4 linked regions of the Homo sapiens genome follow. The protein of the gene in region 1 purifies or fractionates together with the protein of each later gene. This does not show direct contact. Each region holds a gene or a part of one and is shown in the gene's direction. Other genes may lie near its edges. The genes, in order: POP4, RMP24, RPP30 and RPP40.

Region 1 (7,703 bases):
AAGGCTTCCATGTTCTTATTGCAGGTTTGCTGGTATTCAGGATCATGACCTTTCAGCGGTAAAAAAAAAAAAAAAAAAAACCTACTAGAGGCCAGGTACGGTGGCTCAGGACTGTAATCCCAGCACTTTGGGAGGCCGAGGCGGGTGGATCACTTGAGGTCAGGAGTTCAAGACCAGCCTGGCCAACATAGTGAAACCCTGTCTCTACTAATAGCAAAATTATAGCCGGGCGTGGTGGCAAGCACCTGTAACCCCAGCTACTCAGGAGGCTGAAGCAGAAGAATCCCTTGAACCTGGGAGGCAGAGGCTGCAATGAGCCAAGATCGCACCACTGCACTCCAGCCTCGGCAACAGAGTAAGACTCCATCTCAAAAAAAAAAAAAAAAAAAAAAAAAAAAAAAAAAACTAGAAATAATGTTTTTCTTTAATCCGAAAGTGGAGGAGAGGGGATACACAAAAAAATACTTCTCCACTATATTGTCAGAGGCTATTAGATAAATGGTTTCTGTAAATTTAGTTGTGTTTATTTACAGAAGTCCTAATTTTCGTGGATACCCACTTACTTAATAGTTGAGGCTTAATCTTTTTGAGCTTACATATGAGATTTTTCTTGAATACTCAGAATAGCAGCCTGAATGTCTCAGAGCAACAATCAAAAGGAACCTGTACAAATACAACAAAGTGTGAATTGTAGAATCAAAAAGCATATGGGTGTTCACTGTTTAAATGTTTCCATTATTCTGTATATTTGAAGTTTTTCATAATAAATTGCTGGAGGTCGGAGGGGAGTCACCTGCAATGATTCCATCAAACATTGACTTCTCGTGGAACTTTCACAAAGCCACTACTGGGAAAACACATGTGTATCCATGTTTGAAAGTTTATCATTTATAGCTATAAAAAAGAAAAAAATTAAAGTCTTTTCACCAAATGCAATTTAGAAAAGAGAAACAAAAGGAAAAATCTCCCATAACTTCACTTACCCGGTTATACAAACTTTTAGTATATTCATGTAACTATTGTGTATATATTTGGCTTTATTAGTTTGTAACCTTTTTAAAAATTGTATGTAATTTGTTTAATGGCTGCATGGTAATCCATCATGTTATAGAAATGTGTTAGCAGTGGCAGAGAACCGAGTTACCCCAAGTAACTGGAGACGAATCCGTACGCGTTCGCAGCAACTTCAATCTTTGCCTTGTCAAAAGAAAGAATTTGACTGAGGGGCAAAAAGCAGAAAGAGACCAAGGCAAGTTTCAGAGCAGGAGTGGAAGTTTATTAAAAAGCTTTAGGCCGGGCATGATGGCTCACACCTGTAATCCCAGCACTTTGGGAGGCCGAGGCGGGTGGATCACAAGGTCAGGAATTCGAGACCAGCCTGACCAACATGGTGAAACCCCATCTCTACTAAAAATACAAAAATTAGCTGGGTATGGTGGTGTGTGTCTCTAATCCCAGCTACTTGGGAGGCTGAGGCAGGAGAATCGCTTGAACCTGGGAGGTGGAGGTTGCAGTGAGCCAAGATCGTGCCACTGCACTCCAGCCTAGGAGATAGAGCAAGACTCCGTCTCGGAAAAAAAAAAAAAAAAAAGCAAAGCTTTTGAACAGTAAGGAAAGGAAAGAAAAGGAAAGTATTATACAAGTTGGAAGGACAAGCAGGCAACTTGAGAAACCAAGAGCGCAGCCTGACCCCTTGACTTGGGGTTTTACACGTTGGCCTACTTCCAGGATCTACTTCCAGGATCTTACATTACTTCTCCCCACTCCTGAGATCTTACAGGAAGCTGCTGATCAGTTTCAGGTGTTTTCTATCTGTTAGGCGGCTGCCTGTTCCCTAGCGCCAGCTGTGGCCAATTACTTTAGAGAAACAGTTAACAACCACCTGACCATCACCTGATGGTGGCCCAACACCCCTGGTGTGTGTAGCGGGGAGCCTTCTCCTGCCCTGCTCATACCTGACTACCTACCTACTGTAACAAATGTGCCATACCTAGGAACAGTTTATAAAAACAGATTACTGGGACCCACCTTATAAAAACAGATTATTGAGACCCACTGGATAAAAACGAATCTCCAGGTATGATACCAAGAAATTTGAAATGAAAGCTTACCCTGTGATTGTGATCCTGTATTTGGTCTGTGGATCAAGCAAATTAAGTGTGTGCTAACTAATCAGGTAAATTAATGCATTTAATAATGCATTAATTAGCATACCTAATTACCTAATTAGCACATAGTTAATTTGCTTGATCCACTATGATCAAATATAGCATTGTTTTTAAGTTTTTGCTATTATAAACAAAAATCACAAACATCCTCACAGGTATCTCTCTGCATACAGAAACATTTTCTGAGAATAATCAAGTGGTTTGTTTGCTTTTTATTTTTTTTGTTTGTTTGCTTTTTAAAAAATATTTTAGGCTGGGCGCAGTGGCTCACCCCTGTAATCTCAGCACTTTGGGAGGCCGAGGCGGGTGGATCATGAGATCAGGAGTTCGAGACCAACCTGACCAACATGGTAAAACCCTGTCTCTACTAAAAATACAAAAATTAGCTGGGCGTGGTGGTGTGTGCCTGTAATCTCAGCTACTCAGGAGGCTGAGGCAGGAGAATCACTTCAACCTAGGAGGCAGAGGTTGCAGTGAGCCGAGATCACACCATTGCACTCCAGCCTGGACAACACAGCAAGACTCCGTCTCAAAAAAAAAAATATTTTAATGATGAAGGAACTATGTTGTAATTGCAACTCAAGGACGACCCACCCCACCACCATCAGGGAATTCGAGGGGAGACTGGCAGTTATCCAGGGATCCCAGAAGGAGTCAACTGGGAGTTAAGAGTCCTAACAACCCTAGAAAAAAACTTTCAAAGACACAGGTCTTCTCATTAATCTCCATAATCACAGAGGTCTTGCCTAAAAGGGCCCCCCTTGAGTACACAGCTCTGAAACTGGCTAACATCTTCTGCTGTCTCATTTGATTTTAAAGTTCACATTTGTGAAGGGCTCTATTGTACAACATGGTGACTATAGTTAATAACAGTGAATTTCAGTTAATAACCTGAATTTCACTGAGAGTAGGTCTGAAGTGTTCTCATCACAAAATGAGTGTATTAGCATCGCTCATAGCTCATTTAGCCATTACACAATGTATACACATTTCAAACCATATTGTATACCATAAATACATACAATTCTTATTGGTTAATTTTAAAAATAATAAAAGTTCTCTATCAGTCCCATAAATTACAATTTTCAGGCATCTGCAAAGGCAGCATGTTTTGGTTTAAATGTGGTCTTTCCAAATTTTATACGTATAAAATAAATGCATAAGTGTACTACATATGCAAAAACTAATACATAAATTTTATAAAGTCAATGCACGCGGGGTCACTGGGATGAACCAATTTCAGTGCCTGCAGTCTAATGTTTAAAATCAAAATGGTACAAGGTCACCACCAAAGAAATTGTTTAAGCCAATGTTTCTCAAACTAAAACCTTTGGACATACTCCCAGAATCCCCTGTAAAGAAATGTATACTGTACTCAAAGTTGAGAACCACTGACTTAGCATAAAGGGACCGTATTTCTTTTCTCTCCCACCCAGCACAGGCCCAGTGCTCAGCAGAAATTGGGGCTCCACAGTTCTGCCCAACACTGGGTCACTGCTGAGAAGTCTGCACCAGGCCTTCCTGCACCTTTCCACTGAGCAATGGAGTTTGTTTATTCATTTATTTATTTATATGGAATTTATTTATTTATTTTGGAGACAGGGTCTCACTCTGTCACCCAGGCTGGAGTGCAGTAGCGCAATCCAGGTTCACTGCAGCCCTAAACTCCTTGGGCTCAACTGATCCTCCCACCTCAGATACCCGAGTAGTTGGGACTACAAGCACGCACCACCACGCCTGGATAATTTTTTTTAAATGTTTTGTAGAGATGGGGTCTCCCGATGTTGCCCAGGCTGGTCTCGAACTCCTGGGCTCAAGAGATCCTCCCGCCTGCGCCTCCCACGGTGTGAGCCACCTTTGATCTTATTGCTATGATTTTTTTATTGATAAAAACTAATAAATATTCTGAGTCTCAAGAAAGCTTTCTGAAACTATCAAAGGGACCCAGGCGGCGCATCACTACCTGTGAGGCCGACCCCACTCACAGCACAGACTGCAAGTGAGGCTTACAGATGGGAAGTGCCCTAAGCGAGGTTAAACAGCTAGTTAGCAGCAGACACGGAACTAGAACCTAAGCCTGCTGTCCCAGCTTCGGTGCCCGTGCTCACAGCGGAAGCTGCCTCGGCTCATCCGTAAGGGCGCTGATTAGGGACGACAAAGACCTCACCCCACCGTCCCCGTCCCATTTCCGCCCTCCCAGATCCCCAACCTCCTTCGAGTCCTCTCCAAGTCGCCTCGCCTCGCTCCACTCCAGGCCTTAGCAAGCATTCCACATGCCTTTACCCCAACCCTACTGCCTGTCCCCCAAAAGATGCAGGCGGAAAAGACCCCAGGAAGCGAGCCCACTCCTCCCCACTGCTCAGCAACACCGCCTACGACGTTCTCAGTAGCCGAATCCCTTTCCAGGCGCATGCGCCCCCGAGGTGGGCGAGCGCCGGTGATGTCACGCATAGCGCCATCTCCGAGCTCCGAGAGTCTGCGACAGCAGCTGCCAGTGCGTCATCAGAGAGCGCCGGAAGCGGTCCGAGAATGAAGAGTAAGCGGGGCCGCGAAGTTGGAGAGGGTTGGGGACGTTAAGGGTCGGGGTCTTGGTACTGGTGGGTGAAATGGGTCCGGGCTACCTGTTGCTGCGGAGTCCTAACAGAACCGCTACAGGAATGGGCCCACCCTACCTAAGAAAAACTGAGGGCTGGAGCACGGGTTAGCCTGGCTCGACCTCTGAGCTAGGGAGGGATGTCAGGGCTGGAGGCAGGTTCTCCCGGAGGCTGCTCAGTGGTGTGCGATGCTAGAGGAGGGTTCCAGGCCTTGGCTCAACTTGGCCACTATCTCCCGGGGTGACCGCGGTCAAGATCCTGCTCCTTTCTGCGAGCTGGTTTCACACTCTTAACCTGATGCAAAGCGCCGAGAGCTGCTGGGGAATGATATCACTAACCCAAAGCTTTGGTCCTTAGGGGTAGAAGACATGTGCCAAGGAGGGGCGTGTAGACACCGTTAAGACTGGGCCTTCAATCAGAATTTTTATTTTTCATCTCTGCCACTTTCTACCTATATGATCAAGTAGATTGTCTCGGCATGTCTGAGCTTCAGTTTGCTCATGCACATAAGTGTAATGAGAAAAAATATGTGTACCTTGTAATGAGGTTTCTGGCAAGTAATGGATGTTCAGTAATTGTTAGATGTGTATTGTTGCAGAAAGACTTCCAAGTCTGTTACTAAGCACCTGTAACAGATGAAGCAAAGTTATCAGGCCCCGCAAGTTGCTCTCTACAGTTTATAATCCCCATCTTCCATTTGAGGGAGAACTAGATGCTATATATAAAACTTGCAACCACATTGGTTTGCTTGATCAAACAAACATACCTGGCTGGGTGTGGTGGGACACGCCTGTGGTCCCAGCACTTTGGGAGGCTGAGGCAGGGGGATCACTTGAGGCCAAGAGTTGAAGACCAACTTGGGCAACAACATAGCGAGACCCTGTCTCTACAAAAACTGGAAAAAAAAAAAAAGAATTAGCCAGGTGTGGTGGCACACACCTGTAGTCTCAGCTACTCAGGAGACTGAGGTGGGAGGATCACTTGAAACCAGGAGGTCGAAGTTGCAGTGAGCTATGATTGTGCCACTGCACTCCAGCCAGGGCAACAGAGCAAAACCCAGTATCAAAACAAACAAACAAACAACAAAAAAAAAAAACTTGTAACCACCTTGCATCAAACATTCTCAGGGAAGTACAAGAAAGCTGGAATTAAATTTACAGAGTATAGTGTAAATTACATTTTCTAGCTATTTAGCTCATAAACCAGGCCTTAGTAGTCCCATTCTTATTCCATTCACACCTGTACTCTGTCCCCAGTGCCATGGTTTTCTTCTTTCAAAAAATTAAGAAACAGAAGTGTGGAATTTATTTTAGAGGTTGAAACTTTATTGACCAATGTATATTTTGAGTTTAAAGGAAAAACTTGTATTTTATCAGTTCAGGACACCATCGATTATGTGACACATTATAATTTCATATTAAAATGTGAAGAATCTTTTTAAACATCTTACAGTTAACAAAACCTATTTCTAACCATCTACATCCTAGACAGCTATATCATATAACTTTTAATGAGTTACCTTGTTAGCAAGTGCTCAAGCTTCTAACTTGGGGTATTTTAAACCAATGCAACTCAAAATGTGATTCACTGACCTGCAGTAGTATCTGGGAATATGTTAAACACTCAGGATCTAGGGTAGGAGACCAATAATCTGCATTTTAATAAGATCCCAGAGATTTTTACACACGTTAAATTTTGAGAAGCATTCTTTTTAAACCATGTGCTTGGAACTTCTAGCATAGATGTGGCCAGAGGGTGGGATAAGAGGCATCCAAGAAAGCTTTGCTCTTAATACCAACCTCATCTTCTCCTATCTCTGAATAAGCAGTTGTTCTGCTATAAGTGTAGAAGTGTAGTTATTTTCTTTTCTTTTCTTTTCTTTTTTTTTTTTTTTTTTTTTTGAGACAGAGTCTCACTCTGTCACCCAGGCTGGAGTGCAATGGCACGATCTTGGCGCATTGCAGCCTCTGCCTCCCAGGTTCCAGCGATTCTCCTGCCTCAATCTCCCATGTAGCTGGGAATACAAGTGCAAGCCACCATCCCCGGCTAATTTTTGTATTTTTAGTAGAGACGGGGTTTCACCATGTTGGCCAGGCCGGTCTTGAACTCCTGACCTTGGGTCAGGATCCGCCCGCCTTGGCCTCCCAAAGTGCTAGGACTACAGGTATGAGCCACTGCGCCTAGTGGCGTAGTTATTTTCATAGTTAGAAAAGTCTTGGGTCTTACAGCCATACCCAACAAGAATTGATCATTTCTTTTTTTTAATCCCCCAGGTGTGATCTACCATGCATTGTCTCAGAAAGAGGCGAATGACTCCGATGTCCAGGTCAGTTCTTGGCAGGGAGTCCAGGAGCAACAGAGGTGATGGCAAAGATGGCTCAGTAGCTTCTGAGCCCCCAGCACTGATTGAGATGTCCTTTCCCACATCATACTCCTCATTTTTCTGGCAGACATCTAAGGCTGGATCAAAGTCTGTAGTTCTCATTACCTGTTCCCACGTGCCAGCCTCCTTTTCTGTTGTGCCAAAGTCAAGTTTGGTAAAATGAGGCTTTCCTTAACCTTTTATCATTTCCCACTGTGTTGGGGACACCAGGCTGTGCCCACGTGGTGGGCAGCATCATTCAACCTTGTCACTGTGCCCTCTGCACTTCTGCAGAAGGTGTGCAATCACATATCATAAGTGAAATTTACAGATTATATCTGAATGCCTCGGCCTGCTTTGTCAGTTTTGCAAAAGTTCCTCTTGTGGCTCATAATGAGAGCATTACCTTGAAAGCAAGATTTTGAAAGACCAGTATACCTTTATTTTGCTTCTCCATGAAAGATGAGCCACTCAGGTATTTAAGAGAATCAGATCATTGTCCTATTATAGTCACAATGACGAGAGTGAATTAATTTTTAGTTAGCATCTACAGGTGCAAAGCTGAAGCAGAGTTCCCAC
Region 2 (7,869 bases), on another chromosome or scaffold:
ATCACGCCACTGCACTCTAGCCTGGACAACAGAGCTTAAAAAAAAAAAAATCATAGGGGGTTAAAGTGGGTTTTTCTTGCTGTCTTCTGTTCCAGTGGAGGATCACAGAACTGGTTGAGCCAGATTACGAAGCACTGATCTTAGATTTTACAACAGTGATGTTATTATCCCCAGGAGCAATTTGAGGAGGATCAGAATCTTGCAGCCTCCAGCTGCATGGCTCCTAAACCATAATTTCTAATCTTGTAGCTAATTTGTTAGTCCTACAAAGGCAGCCTGGTCCCCAGGCAAGAACGGGTTTTGTTTTGGGAAAGAGCTGATATCATCTTTATTTCAAAGTCAAACTATAAAGGGCTGTTACAAAGTTAAACTATAAACTAAGTTCCTCCCAAAATTAGTTCAGCCAATTCCTGGGAATGAACAAGGACAGCTTAGAGGTTAGAAGCAAGATGGAGTTGGTTAGGTCAGATCTCTTTCACGCTAATCATTTCACTGTTAATTTTTGCAAAGGCAGTTTCAATTGGACTGGGAGAGATAAAAGAGGAAGCAGGAAACGAATGCAGAGGGCCATAGCAGGGGTGCAGGCAAGAGAAGAGGGTGGCTGTGGTGGTGCAGAGAAGCGGGCAGTCATGATTTACTTCTGATGAAGAGCCAGCAGGACCTGAGGACAGACCAGCTGCAAGCCGTGGGAAGGAAGAAGCAGCACTGTAACATGTCCATAATGGCCCCAACGCCCAAGCTGGAAGGTTGTGGGTTTACAGGAATGAGGGCAAGCAACACCTGGCCCGCCCAGGGCGGAAAACCGCTTAAAGGAATTCTTAAGACACAAACAAAAGCATGAGCGATCTGTGTCTTAAGGGCATGTTCCTGCTGCAATTAATTCAGCCCATCCCTTCCTTTCCCATAGGGGACTTTTAGTTAATTTAATATCTATAGAAACAATGCTAATGACTGGTTTGCTGTTAATAAATATGTGGGTAAATCTCTGTTCAGGGCTCTCAGCTCTGAAGGCTGTGAGACCCCTGATTTCCCACTTCACACCTCTATATTTCTGTGCGTGTGTCTTTAATTCCTCTAGCGCCACTGGGGTCTCAGCACATGCACACATATTGGATTTCATTTTCACATTTTCCCTCTTTCTGCTTTATTAGTGACCTAGAAACAGATACAACTATGTAAAAAACAAAACAAAACAGAACTTCTATATGGTGTAGTGGCATTTCTCCTATGCCATGGTGGTGTTGTGAGGATTAAATAAATTAATACACGTTAAGATGCTTAGAAAAGTGCCTGGCACATATACAGTGCTCATTGCATATTATTTTTATTTCAATTCAAATGGAAAAAGACTAGTTTACCTAGCATGGGGCTTTTGTATAACTTACTATCCATTTTGAAAAAATGTCAGATGCTCTTACATTTAAGTGAAAATACATTTCATATCAATTAAATATGTGCATGGAAGAAATCATACTAGAAAAGTATGAGAAAAACATCTGATTAGCCAGGTGCAGTGGCTCACACCTATAATCCCAGCACTTTGGGAGGCCAAGGCAGGTGGATCATGTGGTCAGGAGATAGAGACCATCCCAGCCAACATGATGAAACCCTGTCTCTACTAAAAATACAAAAATTAGCTAGGCATGGTGGTGCATGCCTGTTATCCCAGCTACTCGGGAGGCTGAGGCAGGAGAATCGCTTGAACCAGGGAGTCGGAGGTTGCAGGGAACCAAGATCGCACCACTGCACTCCAGCCTGGCAACAGAGTGAGACTCTGTCTCAAACAAACAAACAAAAAAATCTAATTGAATAGTTAGTTGCCTAACTTTGACAAAGCAGGACTTTTTAGACCACACAGAAAACCCAGATCCAATAATGAAAAGAGTGACTTGTTTGATCACATACAAAATTTTGTAATGTTAAAAAGTTATAAATTATGCCAAAGATAAGGAAGAAGAAAATATTGCATCACATATGACAAGCAGAAAGTGAATTTCACCAAAATAAAAGATCTTCTAAAAACTGATAATCCAACAAGAGATTTCTCTTCATAAGAGAAAATGCAAACCATCAAGGGATAAATGAAAAGAGGATTTGCCTTTCACCTATCTAATTTGACCCAGCCTTCTTAGTCATTGATGCTGGGAATATGAATTGCTACAACCTTTTCTGGATGATCTGGCATATAAAAAATGTGCATATTATTCTACCCAGTAATTTATCTTTTAGGAATTCAGACAAAAGAAATAAAACCACCAGTACTGTATTAACTAGCAAAGCACGAATTTTTTTCCAAATGAACATCAATAGGAAAATAAAATATGGTTATTTATTAAATAAATTAAATTATGTTTCATTACATTTTGTAATATGTTCAGCTATTTAAAAGCATGTACTAACTTGAAAAGATGTCTGTGGCCTGCTGTTAAGGAAAAAAGACAAGTTATACAGTAAGGAACTAACATTTTACTTTTGGTTTTGGTTTTGTGTGTGTGTTTGGTTTGTTTCTTTTTGTTGTGGTCGTGGTAAGTGGTGGGGGGTAGCATATTTATACACGTACTTAAGTGTATAAGGACATAGGTAGAGGAGACACCCAATTATTCATGTTGATCGCCTCAGAGAAGTGGGATGGAAAGGTGGGAAGAGCAGGGAAAATAACTTTTCTTCGGAAAAAGTTAAAATGCCTATAGAGATGTAAATATATACTTTCTCTTTACAAATCTTTATATAATTTAGCCCCCCGCCTCCCGCCTTTTTTTTTTTTTTTTTTTTTTTTAGACGGAGTCTCGCTCTGTCGCCCAGGCTGGAGTGCAGTGGCTGTGATCTCGGTTCACTGCAACCTCCGCCTCCTGGGTTCAAGCGATTCCTGTGCCTCAGCCTCCCAAGTAGCTGGAACTACAGGCGCATGCCGCCACACCTGGCTAAATTTTTGTATTTTAGTAGAGACAGGGTTTCACCGTGTTGCCCAGGCTGGTCGCCGACTCCTGAGATCAGGCAATCCACCCGCTTTGCCCTCCCCAAGTGCTGGAATTACAGGCGTGAGCCACTGCGCCTAGCCAATTTAGCTCCCTTTTAAAATTAAAAATGGGCTGGGCATAGTGTCTCATACCTGTGATCCTAACACTATGGGAGGCTGAGGTGGGAGGATCACTTGAGCCCAGGAGTTCAAGACCAGCCTGGGCAATATAGTGAGACGCCCATCTCTACCAAAATAATAATAATAATAACAACAACAACAACAACAACAACAATACCTACGCATGGTAGTGTGCCTGGTTCCCAGCTACTAGGGAGGCTGAGGCAAGAGAACCCTTTAACCCAGCCCAGGAATTCAAGAATGCAGTGAACTGTGATCACACGACTGCACTCCAGCCTGAGCAACAGAGTGAGATCCCATCTCAGATAAATAAATAAAGCAGGCTAAATAAGGGTCCACTATCCAGAACATACACATTAAAAGAACCTTACAACTTATCAACAAAAAGACAACTCCAATAAAAAATGAGCAAAGAACTTAAACAGCCAAAGATACATAAATTGCCAACAAGCACATGAAAAGCTGCTCAAAAGCATCAGTAGTCAGGGAAATGTTAATCAAAACCACAATGAGATGCTACATCATACTCACTAGGAAGGCTAGATTTAAAAAAAAAAGAAAAAGAAAAGCAAATGTTGGTGAGGATACGGAGAAACTGGAACCCTCATTAAGCACAGAATTACTACATAACCCAGCAGATCTACTCTTAGGTATTATACCCCGAAGAACAGAAAAAAGGCACTCAAACAAATGCATGTACACACATGTTCACAGCGGCATTCATTCATAACAGCCAAAAAGTAGAAACAATTCAAACGTTCAACTGATGAATGGATAAACCATTGTGATACCGCCATACAATGGAATATTATTCAGCCATAACAACGAATGAAGTACTGATACGTGCTGCAAGGTGGATGAACCTGATACATTATGCTAGGTGAAGGAAGCCAGACACAAAAGGTCGTGTGTATGATTCCATTTACATGAAATGCCCAGAATAGGTAAATCCATAGAGACAGAAAGCGGACTGGTGGTTGCCAAGGCCTGGGAGGGAGAGGAGGATTGGCCGTAAGTGCTTCATGGAGTTGGCTGTCCTTCGGCGAAATATTTTGGAAATAGCAGAATGGTGCTTGCACAACATTGTAAATTTACTAAACGCCACTGAATTGTTCACCTTAAAATGGTCAATATTACGTTATGTGAATTTCACTTTAATTACAAAAAGAGAAACGCTAGCGTTTACGCAGGCGGAGGGCAGGCTGGACTGGGGACGCTCCTCCCGGCCGCCTCGTTGCTGGCAGCGCTTCCGCCCGCCGGCGCACCAGTCAGTACCGCGCCCGGCGAATGTGGAGGGCGAAGCTGCGGCAGGGCAATCACAAAAGGGCTGTCAGAGAGGAGGCGAGGCGGGAGGAAGATGGAGAGGCGGGTGGGAGCCTCACCTTTGGACTCTATCGCCACAGCCCGGTCTAGCCGCTACGCCCGAGCTCAAGTCTGACTCGAAACTCCGCTGGGTGCCTGAGAGGACCCGGCAGGCCAAGGGGTGGAACTGAGGGGGCGGGGACGCGGCGGGCGGGTGGGGCCGCCTCCCGGCTGGGCACGCCTCCAAGCCAGACTGGACGCGAAGGAAACCGGAACCTGTCTGCCTACGGTGCCTGTTTCCGGAAGCAGCTTGAGTCCGGACACCAACGACGGGGACGCTGGGAAGCCGACTTCCGGCGCCCTATTTTCTCACCTGGTTCCCGCGGCGAGCCAGCGGCAGCGGCGGCGGCGATGAGACAGAAGCACTACCTTGAGGCTGCAGCGCGGGGACTGCACGACAGCTGCCCGGGCCAAGCCCGCTACCTCCTGTAAGAGGACTGGAGGGGAAGCGGGAGGCGAGCGGGTAGGTGTTCCTTTGCTCCTCACAAGTCTCTTTCTCTTTTACAGCTGGGCCTACACTTCGTCGCACGGTAAGAAGAACGCCTGTCTCTTGTGCTTTGGGCTCTTGTCGCCCCGCTTTCCTCTGTTCCGCACAACGCTCAAATAAGGCCGATGGACTCACTTCCCTCCATAAAAACAACAACAACAAAGCCCGCATGTGTCTCGGTTTCGTGAAAAATCCAAATTCTTTAATGTGCCTTGTCTTGCTTTGTTAGCGGCATTTGACACATTGATCAGTCTTGAAATAGTTTCCTCCCTTGGCTTCTAGGTCATTACGTAGTTCACCTCTTCATTTATTACTTCTCGATTTGCTTTGCTGGTTCCTCCTAATCTCCCCAAGCTTTAAGTATTGTCGTGGCCCAGTACTCAGCCCTTGGACCTCTTTTCTAGGCACACTCGCTTCCTTGGTGACAGTTTTTCATCCAATCTCATGGCTTTTAAATACCATATACTGAGGACTTACAAATGTATATACTCAGCGCAGACCTCTCCTCTGAATTCTAGACTCATATATCCGAATGTCTTCTTGACAAATTCTTTTCAATGTCTAGTAATTCAAACTTAGCTAATATGTCCAAAACCTGAGCTTTAACCCCCAACAAGATCCTCCAGTTTTTCTCATTTCAGTAAATAATTCCATTCTTCCCTTACAGTTATTGAGCCCAAAAACCTTGGAGCTATTCTTGACTCCCTAACTCTCTCTCCTCCCCCAGGCCAGTATGCGAGCAAATCCTGTTGGCTTTAAAATGTAGCCAAAATCAGCCAGGAGCGGTGGCTCACCCCTGTAATCCCAGCACTTTGAGATGCAGAGGCGGGCGGATCATTTGAGGCCAGGAGTTCGAGACCAACCTGGCCAACATGGCGAAACGCTGTCTCTACTAAAAATACAAAAAAATTACCTGGCATGGTGGTGCACGCCTGTAATCCCAGCTACTCGAGAGGGTGAGGCATGAGAATCTCTTGAACCCGGGAGGTGGAGGTTGCAGTGAGCGGAGATGGCGCCATTGCACTCCACTCCTCACCACATCCATTGCTACTACCCTGCTCCAGGCCATCACCAGCTCTCTCCTGGATTAATAAAAGTGAAAGTCCTTTAAAAGGATTGTAAGGCCCTGTGTCATAGACCTGCATACCTCTCTGACGTACTCTTTCCTTCACGCAACTCCAGTCACACTAGGTCTCCTTGCTTTTCTGTTTCAGGGCCTTTGCAGGTACTCTTCACTCTGCCTGGGATTCTTGCCTCACATATCTGCTTTCATGTGAATCCTCCATTTCCCTCTGGTCTCTATAATATCACTCAATGAAGCTTTCCCTAGCCACCTATTTAAAATTACAGTAACTCCATCAATACTTCTATTCCCCCCTCCTATCTTACTTTTTTATTCCCAGCACTTAACATTTGACGTTGTTATATTTATTGTATGCCTCGGTGAATTGTCCTTTGTTCACTGCTGTGTCTCCAGCACTTAGAACAGTGCCTGGCATTCTTAATTGTCACTTAGTGAATATGAATGAGTTTCACATTTGGCAGAGCTAAGTTTAAGTGTGGTCTTTAGCTTTATAAGTGCTGTTGCATCCCTGGCACTTAGCACAGTGCTCAACAGTAGATACTATTCATTGTGCTAATTATTTAAAAAAAGAAACAAAATCGCAGTGCAATTTGTTATTTTGTGGTAAATGCATTGGTAAAATTGGTGAAACATAACAGCCTTTTAAAACTTAGTAGCAAGTAATGAGAAGTGGCTAGATTTAGGATATATTTTAAAGCCTACAGGATTTGCTAGCATAGGTTGGAGATTTGCCTATCTGTTGCTGAAAGGAGTGAATGGATGGAATTGTAGTATTTTGCAAGGTAAATTACTGCCAATTTATCTTTTTGTAAATTTTCATATTTTGAGTTTACTTAATGTGTATCTGCTTATATTAAATTTCAATATACTTTTTATAAATGTTGACAGTTTGAGGTAACAAAATATTCTGATTTGCTGAATTGTGAGTTTCATTTGTATAATTTTAGATGATAAGAGCACTTTTGAAGAAACGTGTCCATACTGTTTCCAGCTGTTGGTTCTGGATAACTCTCGAGTGCGTCTCAAACCCAAAGCCAGGTTGACACCCAAAATACAGAAACTTCTTAATCGAGAAGCGAGAAACTATACACTCAGTTTTAAAGAAGCAAAAATGGTGAAAAAGTTCAAAGACTCCAAAAGTGTATTGGTAAGATTTCAGTTCCAGTATGTATGAGTAAACTAGAATTTTCTTTTCTTTCACTTAAAATCAGTTTAAGAATCAGCCTCAGTATAACTCAGAGATTTATAGTAGTATATTTGGATTATCAAAATATATACATAAACACTTCTCTAATGATTAGTGTTTCATTATAAGGACAGCTTACTTTTATTTTTCATGATTACCTAAACCAAACATGGTGAGCTCTCAATTGTTTTGAGATCCCATTGTTGAGCATTATTTTTCACAAATGTGCGGATTTCTTGAACTGACCGTTATGGCTCCACCTAAATTGCAGTTACCACTACATTATTTTTTCAGTTAATGCTCCTTTGCTTCAGATAGTACTATGTTATGTATGTAGGTATCATGTCACTTCTTCAGCTGTCCTCCCACTCCATGTCAGAGTGGATTTACAGGTATGCCCAACAAAGGTGAATGCATCTTTTGTTCTTTCAACATTTTATTGAGGGTCTATCATATGCCAAGCAACATTTAATATTGGGGATATAAGATGGAATAAAACAACCAAAATCAGATTACGTACGGTTTACTATATGGAGGCCAGTAGCAAATACACTTTATATCCCTGCATATTTTATGTTAACATTTATCAACTGTTCAAGTGCCTGCTTATTGTCTATCACTGTGCCGGGCACTGGACATTATGACAGCTTATG
Region 3 (8,097 bases), on another chromosome or scaffold:
AAATTTCACTTTCATTTACCTGCACTTCAAAAGAAAACTAATATTGCAAGCAGGGGCAGATTACCCCAGCACAGAAAGTGGACAAATTTTTATGATATCAGGTCAGTAACAAGAGTTTCTGGGGGAAGGTAAGAAGATGAGGAAGGAATCACTGTGAGCTGTGAGCAGCTCCCTGGATTGGTGATGTCCTATGGAGTGCCACTAGAGTTCTAGGTTTAGCAATTAACCCCTCTGGTCTGCTTTATGAGGGCTTCTGGGAAAGGCTGGGCAGATGGTTCACTGCACAAACTTCCAGATATGTGATGAATAGGGCAACTGTAATATCAGCCTGGAGTTAAGGCATCTTCTTTTAGTCTCCCCAAGAGCTCCTATAAGTGTCCCACCATGTGGGACACAGAGGATGGTTCTGTTTCAGTTGCTGGTGTATCACACTAGTGCACCATGTGCACAGTTCAGTGAATTTCTGGCCAGGTGATTAAATAATACATCCAACAGTGCTACAATTCTGTTGATATGGGAACAAAGTCAAACAAGAGGCCATGAGTTCATTTATTCAATCAGTTACTTTTGGCTGAGTACCACCTACTTTGTGCCAGCTCTGGATATACCCTCAACACCCTAGATCTCTGTCTCATGTATGTTCCTCTTCCACTTCCATGTGTCAAAATTTAATTCAAGCATTACTCCCTCAAGGAAACTGCCATTTTTTCCCTTCAGATCTCCCAAACTTCCCTCTCAATCTGGGAGATAAATCTCTGCTTTGTGCTCCCAATACATCTGGCTAAATCATTTTATAATATGGTTTTCTTGCCTGGCTCCCCCTCGGCCTTAAGCTGCAAGAGGACAGGGGTTGGGTGGAGCATTTTTCAGTTCACTCAGGAGGGGTGAATGGAATAAACTTAGGATAAGGCCAAAGACTAATCAAGCACACACCCAAGCCCACACACAGCCCAGAAAAGAGAGCTCTTCTGGGAGGATGAGAAGGGCTCAATGATTGCGTTGGATGTGAAAAACCATCCTCTTTTTCTAGGCTTCCCGCAGAAGAAGAAATGACTCAAGAGCCATCCTATCTGAGCCCAGGACTTCTCCTTGATATAATGGGAATAACAATATCTCTCTCATTGGCTATTGTAAGGATCAAATCAGATAACTGATGTAAAATGCTTATCATAATTATACAGTACTTTTTTTTTTTTTTTGAGACGGAGTTTCACTCTTGTTGCCCAGGCTGGAGTGTAATGGTGCAATCTCTGCTCACTGTAACCTCTGCCTCCCAGGTTCAAGAAATTCTACTGCCTCAGCCTCCCAAGTAGCTAGGATTTTTAAGAGACAGGTCTCATTCTGTCACCCACACCAGGGTGCAGTGGTGCAATCCATAGCTCATTGTATAATAACATGGAACTCCTGGGCTCAAGGGATCCTCCCACCTCAGCCTCCCCAGTAATTCAGACTACAGGTGTGTGCCACCACTTCTGGCTAATTTATTTTTTGTAGAGACAGGGTCTCACTTTGTTGCCCACGCTAGTCGTGAATTGGCTTCAAGTGATTCTCCTGCCTCAGCCTCCCAAAGTGCTGGGATTACAGGTGTGAGCCACTGCTACCAGTCTTAAACAGTACTATTATCTTCCAGTCAGAAATTTCTATGGTCTTCTTCAAGGTGCAGATACTTGTTGCCACAGCCATCCCTTCAGGCCAACTTCTGACCCCTCTTCCCTGTTCATCTCCCCTATTCTGTCTTGTCTTTTTCTTCTCTCCACTTCTCTCTCCCCTCTTCCACTTCTTTCCTTTCCTTCCTTCTCCCTTCCTACTTCTCCTTTCCTCTACTCTCCTTCTCTCCTCTCTGGTCTCCCTTCTCTTCTTTTCTCTTCTTCTCCTCCTCCCTCCCAAACAACTCTAGTCTCTGCTTGCTTTGCTCAGGAAGCAGTACACTAGGCAAGAACTGAAACAAATTGCCTCCATCCACATGTAGTTCTACCACTAATAATGCCTTAGTTTTCTCAGATATAAAAAATGGATATTGATTTTAAAAACAAAATAACAAAAAGTAAAAAACAGTACTTCTGCAAGTCTAGATCTGAAAACAGTAATAAAACAAAAATAAAAAACAGCATTTAACACACAGCTGCTTTGAAAATAAGATACATACATAAGTACTTAGCAAATTCGCTGGCCCTCAGTATAGTGCTAAATACTGATTGTTATCTATTCCTATTCTTTCTTACCTCTTCTCTTCCTCTTCACCCAGGCTTAGGGTGCAGAGAAGAAAAGAAGTTTATATGGTACAGTCCACAGCAAAAGTTCTGTGACTTTCAAAGAAGCCCACTTTAGTCTCATACTAGCATCAGATAATTAAACAGTCTCCTAGCCACAGCAATTAGGCAAGAAAAAGAAATAAAAGACATCCAAATTGGAAAGGAGGAACTCAAATCATTACTGTTTGCAGACAACATGATCTTATACATGGAAAACCCTAAAGGCTCCCCCAAAAAAACTCCACCATTTAAAACTAGCAAGTAAATTCAGTGAAGTTGCAGGATACAAAATTGACATACAAAAAAACAGTAGCATTCTGTATGCTAATAGGGAACTATCTAAAAAGATCAAGAAAACAATTCCATTTACAATAGCTACAAAAAAAGATACCTAGGAATAAACTTAACCAAGAAGGTGAAAGATCTGTACAATAAAAAAAATTAAGGAAATAAAGATGACACAAATAAGTGAAAAGATATCCCATGTTCATGAACTGAAATAATATTGTTGAAGTAGACATACTATCCAGAACGATCTACAGATTCCATGCAATCCCTATGAAAATACCAATGACATTCCTCACAGAAATATTTTTTAAAATCCTGAAGTTTGTGTGGAACCACGAAAGTCCTCAAACAGCAAGAGCAGTCCTGAGCAAAAAGAGCAAAGCTGGAGATATCACAAAGCCTGACTTAAAAATATGCTACAAAGCTATAGTACCCAAAACAGCATGGTACTGGCAGAAAAACAGACACATAGACCAATAATGTAACAGAATAGAGAGACCAAAAATAAATGCATGCACCTATAGCCAACTGATTGGTATTGAGGGAGGGATTGAGGGAGGAGGATGGGGAGAGGTTGGTCAACAGGTACAAAGTTAGATAGGAGGAATAAGTTCTGATGTTGTATTGCACACAAGGTGACTATGGTTAACAGTAAGGTATTGTTTATATATCACGAAACAGCTAGAAGAGTTTTTTTTAATGTTATCACCAAAAATGCATGAGGTGATGAATATGCTAATTACCTTGATTTGTTCATTATACAACATATACATGTATCAGAACATGAAATTGTACCCTATAAATATGTATAATTACAATGTGTCAACTAAAAATGAAAAAATAATTGAACTATCACCTTATTCACCTTCACCACACATTGGTCATATTTCTGACCAATCTAGATTGTTATGGTCATAGGTGATGATGCCTGTGTGACCCTGCAAAATTAACACTAGATATTCTCATGAAAAACAAAGCGTTTGCTTCATATGACCTTATTCTATTTGCAGAAGTAATATTCTCTTCTACTCCCACTTAGGAAATATCAAGTACTGGAAAAGGCAAAATATCTCTTCTTTACAAAAGTTAACCAAGAAGAGAATTGCATGCTACTGCATGGAACAGATCCTTCCTCCCTTCTGAGACCGACAAGAAAATCGCATAAAGGAGTACTAGTTAAGGTGTGGTCCATAGACGAGAGACTATCTGTGAACTGTTTGTGATCAGTAAATAAGAGAAATTGATGGGTGAAGCATGTGGGTGGGCTCCTGTAATCACAGCTAGGAGAGAGGATTGCTTGCGTTAGAGTCCATCCTGGTCAATAACGAGATACTCTCTCTAAAAACAAAACAAAACGAAACGAAAACTCAGCAGGCCACCAACTAGGATACTCCCTAGGTCAAATGACCGAGCCTCTAATTCTGTGATTGTTGTTGCTGTGCGCACGTTAATAAAACAAACAAACAAACAAAAAGTGAAGATGTTTAGAAAGTTTACAGTACTTTGGCATTGTCCTGATAATCCAAGCTCCTGATCAGCAGATTCTATTCAGCCAGGTATAGGGCAGTTCGAGTGTTGTCAAATTTGTGATTCCCATGAGGCCAGGCTGCTTACTGGTAATGCATAAAGGACCACATCCTGGTTCGCGAAGAGTTTGGGGGTAGAGGAAAAGGAGGGAGAAACTGATCCTTCATCACAGGTAGTTTGAGAGCACTGATGTAAACTATAGTCACACTTTTGTAGTATAATTGATTATTATCCTCAATAGATCATTTACACTAAGTCGGAAAAAAGTGGAAACATCAGATATGTGGGATATGCGTCACCTTGTACATTTCTCAGCTGGAAAAGTGTAAAACATCTCAATTTTGCACCTCCCTTTTCAAACATGTCTTTGGCTAAATCAATGTTGGCTCTAACCGCTCGTCCTAGAGCGAGTCCCGCCATCTTGTGGTTGAAGATGTTGACTGCCACAGAGAATAGCGGGCTTTGACATCAACAGTTCTGATTGGGTAAAAAGACCCTCGTCTTGGGGTAGTTCTCTTTTGAAGTCCTAGAGTCCGTCACACACAAACGCCTTCTTCCCGGTAAGTCCATTGTAAACAACGGAATGGACTTTAGGGAAAGGAAAGGAAAACGTGTTCTTTAAGACTCTTTAAATAGCGTTTTCACCCATTAGCAGAATTCTCTGATTCATGAGCAGCACTAAGTAGATACCGTGTGCGTGCATTTTGAATGAATTCATTTCTACACTATTTTATAGGAGTATTGAATAGTTGGGAATTGGAACCCCTCCAGGGGGAACCAAACATTGTCGTTCAGAAGAAGACAAAGAGAGATTGAAATGAAGCTGTTGATTTCAACACACAAATTCTGGTGGTAGATGAAAGCAAAGCAAGTAAGTTTCTCCGAATCCCTAGTCAACTGGAGGTAGAGACGGACTGCGCAGGTTAACTACAGCTCCCAGCATGCCTGAGGGGCGGGCTCAGCGGCTGCGCAGACTGGCGCGCGCGGACGGTCATGGGACTTCAGCATGGCGGTGTTTGCAGATTTGGACCTGCGAGCGGGTTCTGACCTGAAGGCTCTGCGCGGACTTGTGGAGACAGCCGCTCACCGTGAGTTGCCCCGGCTTCGCGCCTGGCCAACCTCATGCCACCCAGACCATCGGGCCACACTCCGGAGTAACTATTTCCTGATGGGTCTCGGTCAGGTCTCCCAGAGTCTCTGGGATGTCCCTGGAGGCTGATGCCCGCCGAGGTGTTGGTCTGATTCCTAGCGCGGGAAACTCGAAGGTTCTGGGGGTTGTTATCTGGTTCAGCTACTTTCCTGCAATGAGGGAACTGAGGCCTAACGAGGGCGAGGGATTTGCATAGGGGCCTACAGCTGATAGGTGACAGAAGCCGGAGCTGGACTCCAAGGGTACAATCTTCTAAGCTTCTAAGTTACTATCAGCCCTTCCTGATTCTCACGACAGTGTCTAAACAAATACTGGAATTTGGGGCACGGACAGGAAGCGCCGTGGAGGCTCGGAGAAGGAGGAGGACGTGGGAGTGTTGGAACAATACTATCTAGACAGAGAGAGGGTAGGTGGGGGCAGAGGACATACACAGCGGAGTGGAGGTGGAGGAGGAGGATAGCATGGCCCAAATCGAAGGGAAGCGAAAGCCTTGAGAGACGAGAACCTGTTTTAACTATTGGAGTTAGTCATGGGTTCTGTATTCCGTAGACTGTAAAGTGTTGGAATAGAGAGATTAAAAAGAATCAAGAGGTTCGTGTAGTAACATCTGCTCCTCAGAGACAGTTTTCAGCTCATTGTGAGTTCTGATTACTGATACTGTTCAGAGGTGGTGCTAGAAATGACAACCACTTCTTGGCAAAGTGAATCACACCACTTTTTTATTGTTCTCTTTATGAAGTATCCGTGGCGAAATGACTGTCCCTTTCCACTGCTGCCACTAAATGAACGTTATCTCTGTGGTACTTTGCTCATCAGCACGAAGACGAAAGTAGACATGATGATCTGGGCCATTTGGCGCTAATGTTCTTTGATCCTGTAAAATAAGTTTTCCTAGGTGTAGTTTGTCGCAATTATTACCTCCTCAATGAGGCTTTTCCTGACGCCATCCCATTTTTGAATAAATCATGAGCTTCCTAAGAGAATTGCCATGTCTTATCCTTTTATTTACTGTGCTTAACACGTTCACTCTGCAGGCACCAGTACATGGCAGTTACTCAGTTAATGCTTGTGGAATAAACTGAACACATTAAAAAAATTAATACAAAAAAGAAAAGTTAATAATGATTTCTTTAGAGAATTTCCCCCAGTTTAAAATACACTTGGAAGAGGTGTGGTAATATATGTACATTGTTAGTGGTTATTTGTTTGTAAATTAAATGGAATTCATGGCATATAAAGTTGCCTCAACTTACAAGTCAAAGACAAAGGACTGCTCTGCTATTTGATGAGTCTGGAACTAAATAGTGGACATTTGCAAAGAATAGGAAAGACAGAGCCCTGGTTCTCAGTTTCTGATGTGATACAAGAAACCAATAATAAGCTTCAGAAATATACTGTGTAAATTAAAATACCCTAAAGCCTGATTGGGGAAGTAAGTACTCCTAAGCTGCCAGATGAGGAGTAGTCTAGGAAAAAGTTTTGTGGAGAAACAGATCCTAGTTGACATTTCTGTAGAACGGTAGGGACATTGTTTAGTAGCCAAAAGGATATCCTAAATGGGTATAACAAGGAAGTTTAGAGCAGATTTGGGAGTGTGGTAAAGAAGAATAGGGAGGAGGTGTGGCTGGTTGATTTGACTAACTGGGTGCAAGGTGAAGCCCAAGGTACAGGCATACTTGTGATTTTTTTTTTGTTTTTAAGGGTAACTTTCTTCAGGGAGCCTTTTGTGACCCCTACACCAGGTTTCACTGTGCTATGTACTTCCATAGAATCCTTACTTATAAAAAACATGTATTTATATACAATGACTTGCTTAATTGCCTTATTTGCCTTCGTTCTCCAACAGACTAGGCTGTAAATTTCTTGTGGAGAAGGATTATATTATTTATCCTGTATGCTCAACACCAGTTTAGGGCTTGTCAAGTAATGGATGCTCAGTAAATATTTGAGGGAGGAAGGGAAGAAGGAAGTTGGACAAACTGTTGAGAGTTTGGCATTGATATGTATTTTAATGTTAATATCCTTTCATCCCCATTGGTATTTTTAAAAATTAAAGATGGGAGTCATGATTTAGATTTTTTTTTGGTAGCCCAAATGTCCAGAACAGTGCTAACTGATGAGGATAATAAAGCAAGCCCTTGACCTCAAGGAGCTCCCAGTCTGTCGATGGTGTGCAGCTTAAAATGGGAAGCGGGCAGTGGTGTGAGGGAGTTATCACTCCATTTCTCCTTAGGAAAGGAGTCTCTGAAGGAAGTAGAAGGATAAAAAGCAAAAGAAATGAACGGGAATAAAAGTGACAGTGATAAAGTAGGAACTTGATGGGATAAAAATGAATATAGGGTCATGAAAGAGAATGACATTTGAAAAGGAGAAGCACAAAGTTAAGAGTCTTTAGTATCATTTTAATAATAATTCATAATGGTTAAACAAAGACCTGTGTGCCAGGCACTGTTCTCAAACACCTCATGTGTATTATTTCATTTAAATTTCATGACAGTGTATGAAGAAAGTGTTGTTATTTTCACCATTTGACAGATGAGGAACCTGAAACTTCATGTTAAGTAACTTGTAAGTGGTAGTGCATAGACTTTAAATCAGGCAGACTGACACTAGAGTTCACATTCATAACCACTCCTCAAATGTCCTCCTACTCTTGACATCTAGACTCAGGATGGACCTGTGTTACAGGAAGGAGAGGTTGTTATATTTAACAAAAGTGTTCAATTTTTCTTTTTCAGTTGGCTATTCAGTTGTTGCTATCAATCATATCGTTGACTTTAAGGAAAAGAAACAGGTAAAATAATATTTCTAAAGTTAATAAGTTCATAAATAAGTATTTGTAATTCTGTTTGTATTGGTAATTTGGAAGCTACAGATTAG
Region 4 (7,728 bases), on another chromosome or scaffold:
AAGGCATGACTTCATTTGTGCACCTCCGTACAGCGATATGGCCTATGGAGCTGCCATGGTTAATGTTTGTGTCCTTCACTGATCTCCACTCCAGTCACGGAGAGAGCAGCCCAGGAGAAAATGACACTGTCTAGTTCTTAGGTGGGTCATACATTCTTCTTGGGGGCTGTCTTAGTCCATTTGTGCTGCTATAAGGGAACATCATAAAATGGGTAACTTATAAACAACAGACTTTTCTTTCTCACAGTTGTGGAGGCTGGGAAGTCCAAGATCAAGGCACTGGCAGATTCAGTGTCTGGGGAGGGGCCGCTTTCTTGTTCATTAGATGGCATCTTCTCCCTCTGTCCTCATATAGAAGGAGGGGAAAGGCAGCTCTCTGAGGCTTCCTTTATAAGTGCATGAATCCCATTTCTAACCTCCCAAATGCCCTACCTCCTCATACCATCACATTGGTGATTGCATTTCAATACATGAGCTTTGGGGGAACACAAACATTCAGACCATAGCAGGGGCCATTATTATTATTATTATTATTTTATTATTATTTTTGAGATGGAGCCTCACTCTGTTGCCCAGGCTGGAATGCAGTGGCACCATCTCGGCTCAGTGCAACTGCCGCCTCCCGGGTTCAAGCAATTCTCCTGCCTCAGCCTCCTGAGTAGCTGGGATTACAGGCATGCGCCACCACACCCGGTTAACTTTTGTATTTTTCGTAGAGACAGAGTTTCACCATGTTGGCCAGACTGGTCTCGAACTCCTGACCTCAAGTGATCCACCCGCTTTGGCCTCCCAAAGTGCTGGGACTACAGGCATGAGCCACCGTGTGTGGCCCACAGGCCATTAATTTTCTCCATTGCAGCCATTGGTGCCAGTTTCCACTCTGCTGTCTGAGGGCAGTTTCAATCTGTAAGCCAACACCAGTTGATTTGTAGCAGCTGCCTAGAACCCTGTGCTGACAGGAACTGTGAGGTCAAGTTCAGGTTCAGCAGGAGGGCGGCCTCTGATTTAGCACAGTTGTCTGCAATAGATACATTTCCCTGCAGTCTGCTCCTAACTGTAAAGAGATGATGTTAAACAACTCCAGGGCAGTGCTAGGATCCTAATGAACATAACCTGATCACTCCCTGTGTTTCTGAGTCAGACAGCTGTCTCCTTTCACCAATACGGCCTGTATATGGTTATGATACATTTACAAGCACAGAAGTTTATGGACACTGTCATTGTGTTTTGGATTTGCACCCTGACCCAGGCATTAATTTATTTAAAAGAATATTTTAACATTGTCAAAGAGTTGAGCATCTTTAAATTGTTTCTTTCTCTGTTTTTTTTTTTTGTTGTTGTTTTTGTTTGTTTTTTTGAGACAGAGTCTCACTCTGTTGCCAGGCTGGAGTGCAGTGGCAAGATCTTGGCTCACTGTAACCTCCACCTCCCGGGTTCAAGTGATTCTCCTGCCTCAGCCTCCCAAGTAGCTGGGACTACAGGCGCATGCCACCACACCCAGCTAGTTTTTGTATTTTTAGTAGAGACAGGGTTTCACCATGTTGGCCAGGATGGTCTCGATCTCTTGACCTCGTGATCCACCCGCTTTGGCTTCCCAAAGTGCTGGGATTACAGGCATGAGCCACAGCACCCGGCCAATTCTGTTTCTGTTCTTTCTAACTTTATTGCATTATGGCCCGGAAATGGGATGTGTAAAATTTTTGTCCTTTTATATTTACTAAGTCTATATTTTTTTGTTTTCAGAATATGATCAAAGATATTTCTATTTCTTTGCAAGTCTATTAGCTCAGATTTTTCAAAATTATGTTACTATTTTGGGTATACATATAGATATGTTTTGTTTCATGTGCTTTTTTTTTTTTTTAACCATTTCTGGCTTTTCCATCTTGCACTTTTCCTTCCATACCCTGTGCTCTAGATTCTATGATCTAATATCTGTTTGTCAGTTAAGACTGCTTTCAGCTCTAGAGACCAGAAAATCTGACAGACAGAGTGTGAATAAGCAAGGGAAGGAGATGAGGCTGAAGAGGCAGGCTCAGGCCAATGTGTAAGCTTTTATTCCATCACAGTGAGAAGCCAGTGGTAGGGTCTAAATGGGGCTGTGGGGGTATATTATGTTTTTCATGTTTTTAAGAGATCACTCTGGATGCTGAGTGGAGAATGGACTGTGGGAGGGCAAGAGAGGCAGCAAGGAGAAGGTTTGGAGGCAGTCTTGGGCAGCAGGCCAGTAAGTGACGAAGGTGGCTGAAACTGGCTGTAGAAACGCAGAGAGCAAGAAGAGGCTGCAATCAGGATGCGTGCTGCAGGCAGGGCCACAAGACTTACTGTGGGATTGCATGGCGGGTGAGAAGGGAAGAAGTCAGGGGTGAGTCCTTGTACTAGAGTCATCTGGATACTCCGCTCAGGGAAGAGGCGCCACATCTAGGGGTTATCAGCAGCCAGAGAGGAGGACTTAAAGCTGCAAGACTCTGTGGGGTCTCTCTTGAGAAGAGGGCAGTTTATATCTCTCAATACATTTTTCAGCTGATATTTACATAGATAGAATTTATTTTGCATCTTCAAAATATGCAACATTTTAAACTAAATGGTTTGCTGGAAAAGCTTCACGGTGCTTCCAAATACAATTGGTAGACCATCAGGATCACACCAGTCACTTTGTGGAGTTTTGGAATGTCGACAAAGGAGAGGTACATCCGTGATGTTTCAGTCTTGGGCCACTGCTACCACACACAAAGCAACTGTCTGGTGACAATTACATTAAATATGAGGTGACCAAGAAGCAATGCTTTAAGCCTTTTACATCTTAACATGTTATTAGTAGCTGTTATTTATAAAACATCTAGCTGCCATATTGTGATCTAGGAAATTAGTAGGGTTTTTTTTAATTAACTTGCCACGCCTTATAATTCTGCTGTTTAAAATAATGGGAAACAGGTTCTCATTAGGTTTTTCCTTGGAAAGAAAATGTGACATTTCAGTCATAGATTACATTTTGACTTTTTTTTTTTTTTTGAGACAGAGTCTCACTCTGTCGCCCAGCCTAGAAGTGCAGTGGCGAGATCTTGACTCACTGCAACCTCTGCCTCCCAGGTTCGAGTGATTCTTCTGCCTCAGCCTCTTGAGTAGCTGGGATTACAGGCATGCGCCACCACACCCTGTTAATTTTTGTATTTTTAGTAGAAAGCGTTTCACCATGTTGGCCAGGGTGGTCTTGAACTCCTGACCTCAGGCGATCTGCTCGCCTCGGCCTCCCAAATTGCTGGGACTACAGGCGTGAGCCACAGCACTCAGCCAGATTACCGATGTTTTTAGTGGCAGATGACTTTCCGGCCTTGTCTTAGTTTTAATTTTTTTTTTTGAGATGGGGTCTTACTATATTGTCCAGGGTGGTCGTGAACTTCTGAGTTCAAGTGATCCTCCCACCTCAGCCTCCCAAAGTGCTGGGACTACAGGCGTGAGCCACTGTGCTCGGCCAGATTACTGATGTTTATAATGGCAGATGACTTTCCAGCCTTGTCTTAGTTTTATTTTTATTTTTGGAGATGGGGTCTCACTATATTGCCCAGGCTGGTCTTGAACTCCTAAGCTCAAGTGATCCTCCCACCTCAGCCTCCCAAAGTGCTGGGATTACAGGCATGACCCACTGTGACTGGCTTAGTTTTAAATTCTTAATTATTTACCTTGTAAACTACTTAATTCCATTTCTTCCACATCTCATAGAAAAACTGATGTTCCAGGAAGATGTATCACCAATATTCTGCTGTTTTGTATCCTGCCAGTGCAGAATTGGGGCTGTGCCTCTCTAGTTTGAGAAGCATGTAGTAACATACTTGATTTTGCCCTGATCAGTAACGTACCGCATGCTGGGAGCCGCAGTCTCTTAACCGCTCCAAGCCCGTGACAGAAAAACGAAATGGAAAAATGACTTAGGAGAATTATCACTATTAACCCCCAGAAACAACACATTATTAAAAGCGGTTCTGAAGGGCTATTTAAAAGGGAACTCAATAGTAGTTTCAAAGGAGTCCTATTGTAAGGCAAAAATTGTGCTTTACCTTCCCGCACAACCTTCCCTAATGTTTTGGGAAGGACTGATACAAACTTTTAGTCCTGTTGGCCTGTGTTAATAATGGCCAAGAGGTCCCCAATGGGTAACAGAGTCCTGTGAACCAAACAGTGTGAGAAGTCAGAAAGCAGCTGGGTGTGGCCCCCAAAGCAGCTTAGGGGGTTACTTAACTGTGCGGCTACATTTCTTGACCATATACTAAAGGAACTGGGCCTTTCCATGCGATGTTTTCCTTTTATAACGGTGGCAGGAAGCGGTCCCTCTGAGGGGCCTGACCGAGGTATGCGCCGGCGCCAGGCTGGGGTCCAAGGGGCGCTCCGAGGCGGGGCCCACAGAGAGGGTTTAGGGCAATTCCAAGGGATGGCGGGGACGGAGGAAAAGTGGCGTTGAAAAGGCAAGAGCCAGGTTCCCAGCCACTGGGACAGTGAATTTACAGCTTCAGACATCCACCAAAGAGCGGCTGCGTGGGCTCCTAAGAAGTCTAAGAACTGCTCAGAAATCCAGCGCCGCCATCCCCACTCCACCGCCGCCAGGGGCGCACAGCAGCGGGTATGCGGCCGGAGGGAAGGGGCGGGGCGGGAGGAAGGGGCGGGGCGTGCCCCGCCAGCGGAGGCCGGGAGGACCAGGAACCCAGGAGAGCATGGCCACGCTGCGCCGGCTTCGGGAGGCGCCGCGGCACTTACTGGTTTGCGAGAAATCCAACTTCGGCAACCACAAGTCGCGCCACCGGCATCTTGTGCAGACGCACTACTATAACTACAGGGTGAGTCCGGCTGTCCTCGGCTTTTCGGGCCGTGCTCAGTCCCCGCGTGCGAGAGAGGTTTGGGGAGAGTGCTAGGCTTCGCGGGGCGGGGCCGCCGGCGGTACGCGGAGGGGCGGGGCCCTCGCCCGGCTTGCTGGGAGTTGTAGTCTCTTAACTGCTCTAAGCCAGTGGCTTGCAGGGCTACAGGACTACAACTCCCAGGATGCGCCGGGCGTGGGGGCGGTACCCAGTCTGGAGGGAGCTGTTGTCAGGGGCGTTCTGGCTGCTCACTCGTGTCAACCCGCCGAACTGGGAGTGAGTCCAGGGAGGGATTCGAGGTTCAGGGCCGGGACCAGGGAGTTAGGCTGTGGGGCAGCCACGTGCACCTCGCTTTTTCCCCAAATCAGGGCGGGTCTCGCGCCTCCTCCCCACCACTGCCTCCTCCCCAGCTTGAATCCCTCTCCCACCTGCGTACCTGTGGATCTCACCAGAGCATCCTGCCTAGGCTCGGCCCAGGAAGCGACTGATTTTCCTTTTTTTTTTTTTTTTTTTTTTAGACGGAGTTTCGCTCTGTCGCCCAGGCTGGAGTGCAGTGGCGCGATCTCGGCTCACTGCAGGCTCCGCCTCCCGGGTTCACGCCATTCTCCTGCCTCAGCCTCCCGTGTAGCTGGGTCTACAGGCGCGCGCCACCACGCCCGGCTAATTTTTGTATTTTTAGTAGAGACGAGGTTTCACCGTGTTAGCCAGGATGGTCTCGATCTCCTGACCTCGTGATCCGCCCGTCTCGGCCTCCCAAAGTGCTGGGATTACAGGCGTGAGCCACCGCGCCCGGCCGAAGCGACTGATTTTCTAAATTGGTTGTTGGAACTAATTTGATATCTGAGAGACTTCAAGAAACTAACCTTATCATGGGGGATTAAACATTTTACACTTTAAATGGATCAGCTTAATAACTCAGGTTTGACTGAGCAGTGTTTCAGAGATGTTAAGTGGTGACCTGATCAGTCAGAACAGGCTGGTGTTTGAGCCTTGGGACAGTGATGACTTTTACAATGTGGCAACATTTGAAGCCTGCCCTGTTTTTAACACCTATTTTGGATGTCAAGCTCATCACAGCAGTCAGGGATGTATACTTTAACTCGCCTGTTGCATTTTTCTGTCTCGAAAATGAAAACATACAGGAGCACCATTGCTTGCACATAGATTCTTAGTAATTGGATGTCCATAAATTAATTCCTTATGCCCCGACAGATAGTTTGTTTCATTCCAGGATAACACCAGGGTAAACAAATCAAGGGATATTCAATTATACTATATTTCCTTGAAAATAAAATAGTGAAAGGAACAGGACATAAAATATACAGCATTGCTAATTTGCAAAAGATTAAATGCAAGCACGAGTTTTCCATTAAAAGTATTCTGTTCAATCCCCTTCCTGTACTGTACGTTTGAATGCAGAAATGAAAAACTTAAGTAGTCAGATTTCTCTTTGCCTGAGATAGGTAAGTTAACATAAGAGTTTTGTTGCCCGTGTTTTTATGTTCCAGTGAAACTCGTGGAGAAATAACAACTTTCATGATTTTGTTTCATTCCTAAAAACCTGGGTGTTCATCTTCATGGAAGTAAGACCTTGTTTGTATTACACATTCCAATAGGTTTCATTTCTCATTCCTGAATGTGGGATACTATCGGAAGAACTGAAAAACCTGGTCATGAACACTGGACCCTATTACTTTGTGAAGAATTTACCTCTTCATGAATTAATTACACCTGAATTCATCAGTACCTTTATAAAGAAAGGTAAGAAAAACCTGAAATGGCTGTGAACAAGGCTGGATGAGGAAGGGTAGGGAGACCACATCACGATGCTAGGGCTGTTGTTTTGTTTCAAACAGGGCCTGTGGTATAGTCTGTGTGGTCAGGTGCACACGCGTTCTCCCCCGCATTCTCATCCTGTTCTTTCTTGTACCCTCTTTAGGTGGTGGTTTCTGATTGCAATTGGCCACAAGTGTTGGATGGGGATGTTGTAACATGACAGTATCCGTCCCCTTAAAATGAGGATTAATGGAGAGGAGAGACTTGCAGTCTGTGTTCAGATGCACTGCTGTTGAAGATGTGGCTGCAAAGACACTATGCTGTCAGCAGTCCCACAGCAGCTGTCTCAGAGGGTTGGTCTCCCGATACAGCCACAGCTACTGTTCACAGAGCAAAGTGCTTGTTGGGGTCCAGTGTCTTCTGCTTAGATTTTGTAGCCATAACCCCTCCTCTACTCACCCCATTTCCACCCATATCTGCTGGGTTGGACTGGTTTGTTTCAGTTGATTCCTGGGAGCCATTTGTTTGAAACTATTTCAGAGGGCCTTTAGGGATTCCACCCACACTACATAACTCACCTGTACAGTGGCCACATGCTTATCTTGTGGTAGCCCCCATGTGTGTCCTCTCCAGTGAAGATATGAAGAACTCTAGTTACCAGTAGCTCCTCTCATTCTGACACTGCTGGGGCGACTTATGAGCTGGGCATCTTGTCTGGTCTCATCACCGTTATTCCTTTCATCTATTTCAAGGCCTGACACCACTCTGTGAATTACGTGGACAATGGCTGTAGCAGGCACTGTTAAATGTCTTACCAAATTTAACCCTTGCAACAACTTTATGAAGCAAGCCTATGATCCTCATTTAACAGTGAGGAAACTGAGGCTTGGAGAGGTTGGGTAGCTTTTGAATCTTAACCTGGAACTCTGTCTCTGAGAGGTGTATGTTTATCTAGAATTCTACTTTGGACCCCTCTCCGCGCATCCCCAAAGGTCACGTTCCGTTCTGAGTCAGTTTTTTGCTTGATGATAGTAAACTTGCACAAATAGGCTGTTGGTCAGGGAGTGAACTAGCTGGAGCTTGGTCTTCTGCAAGCTTGGTCTTC

The links.
Region 2: the proteins of POP4 (region 1) and RMP24 purify together in Homo sapiens (affinity purification with mass spectrometry; 4 studies listed by BioGRID and IntAct, with this or other methods). This does not show direct contact.
Region 3: the proteins of POP4 (region 1) and RPP30 purify together in Homo sapiens (affinity purification with mass spectrometry; 6 studies listed by BioGRID and IntAct, with this or other methods). This does not show direct contact.
Region 4: the proteins of POP4 (region 1) and RPP40 purify together in Homo sapiens (affinity purification with mass spectrometry; 5 studies listed by BioGRID and IntAct, with this or other methods). This does not show direct contact.

The regions. Positions count from the first base shown.
Region 1 is NC_000019.10:29,601,622-29,609,324, forward strand, and holds the start of POP4 (ribonuclease P protein subunit p29), read left to right. Parts: upstream 1-4,661; 5' UTR 4,662-4,697; coding exon 4,698-4,704; intron 4,705-7,035; coding exon 7,036-7,088; intron 7,089-7,703. UniProt on the Homo sapiens protein: Component of ribonuclease P, a ribonucleoprotein complex that generates mature tRNA molecules by cleaving their 5'-ends.
Region 2 is NC_000018.10:35,967,919-35,975,787, forward strand, and holds the start of RMP24 (UPF0711 protein C18orf21), read left to right. Parts: upstream 1-4,760; 5' UTR 4,761-4,810; coding exon 4,811-4,887; exon of another isoform or gene 4,888-4,948; coding exon of another isoform or gene 4,949-4,966; coding exon 4,967-4,989; intron 4,990-6,977; coding exon 6,978-7,177; intron 7,178-7,869.
Region 3 is NC_000010.11:90,866,914-90,875,010, forward strand, and holds the start of RPP30 (ribonuclease P protein subunit p30), read left to right. Parts: upstream 1-5,060; 5' UTR 5,061-5,073; coding exon 5,074-5,155; intron 5,156-7,955; coding exon 7,956-8,011; intron 8,012-8,097. UniProt on the Homo sapiens protein: Component of ribonuclease P, a ribonucleoprotein complex that generates mature tRNA molecules by cleaving their 5'-ends. Also a component of the MRP ribonuclease complex, which cleaves pre-rRNA sequences.
Region 4 is NC_000006.12:5,000,981-5,008,708, reverse strand, and holds the start of RPP40 (ribonuclease P protein subunit p40), read left to right. Parts: upstream 1-4,671; 5' UTR 4,672-4,706; coding exon 4,707-4,829; exon of another isoform or gene 4,830-4,893; intron 4,894-6,463; coding exon 6,464-6,608; intron 6,609-7,728. UniProt on the Homo sapiens protein: Component of ribonuclease P, a ribonucleoprotein complex that generates mature tRNA molecules by cleaving their 5'-ends. Also a component of the MRP ribonuclease complex, which cleaves pre-rRNA sequences.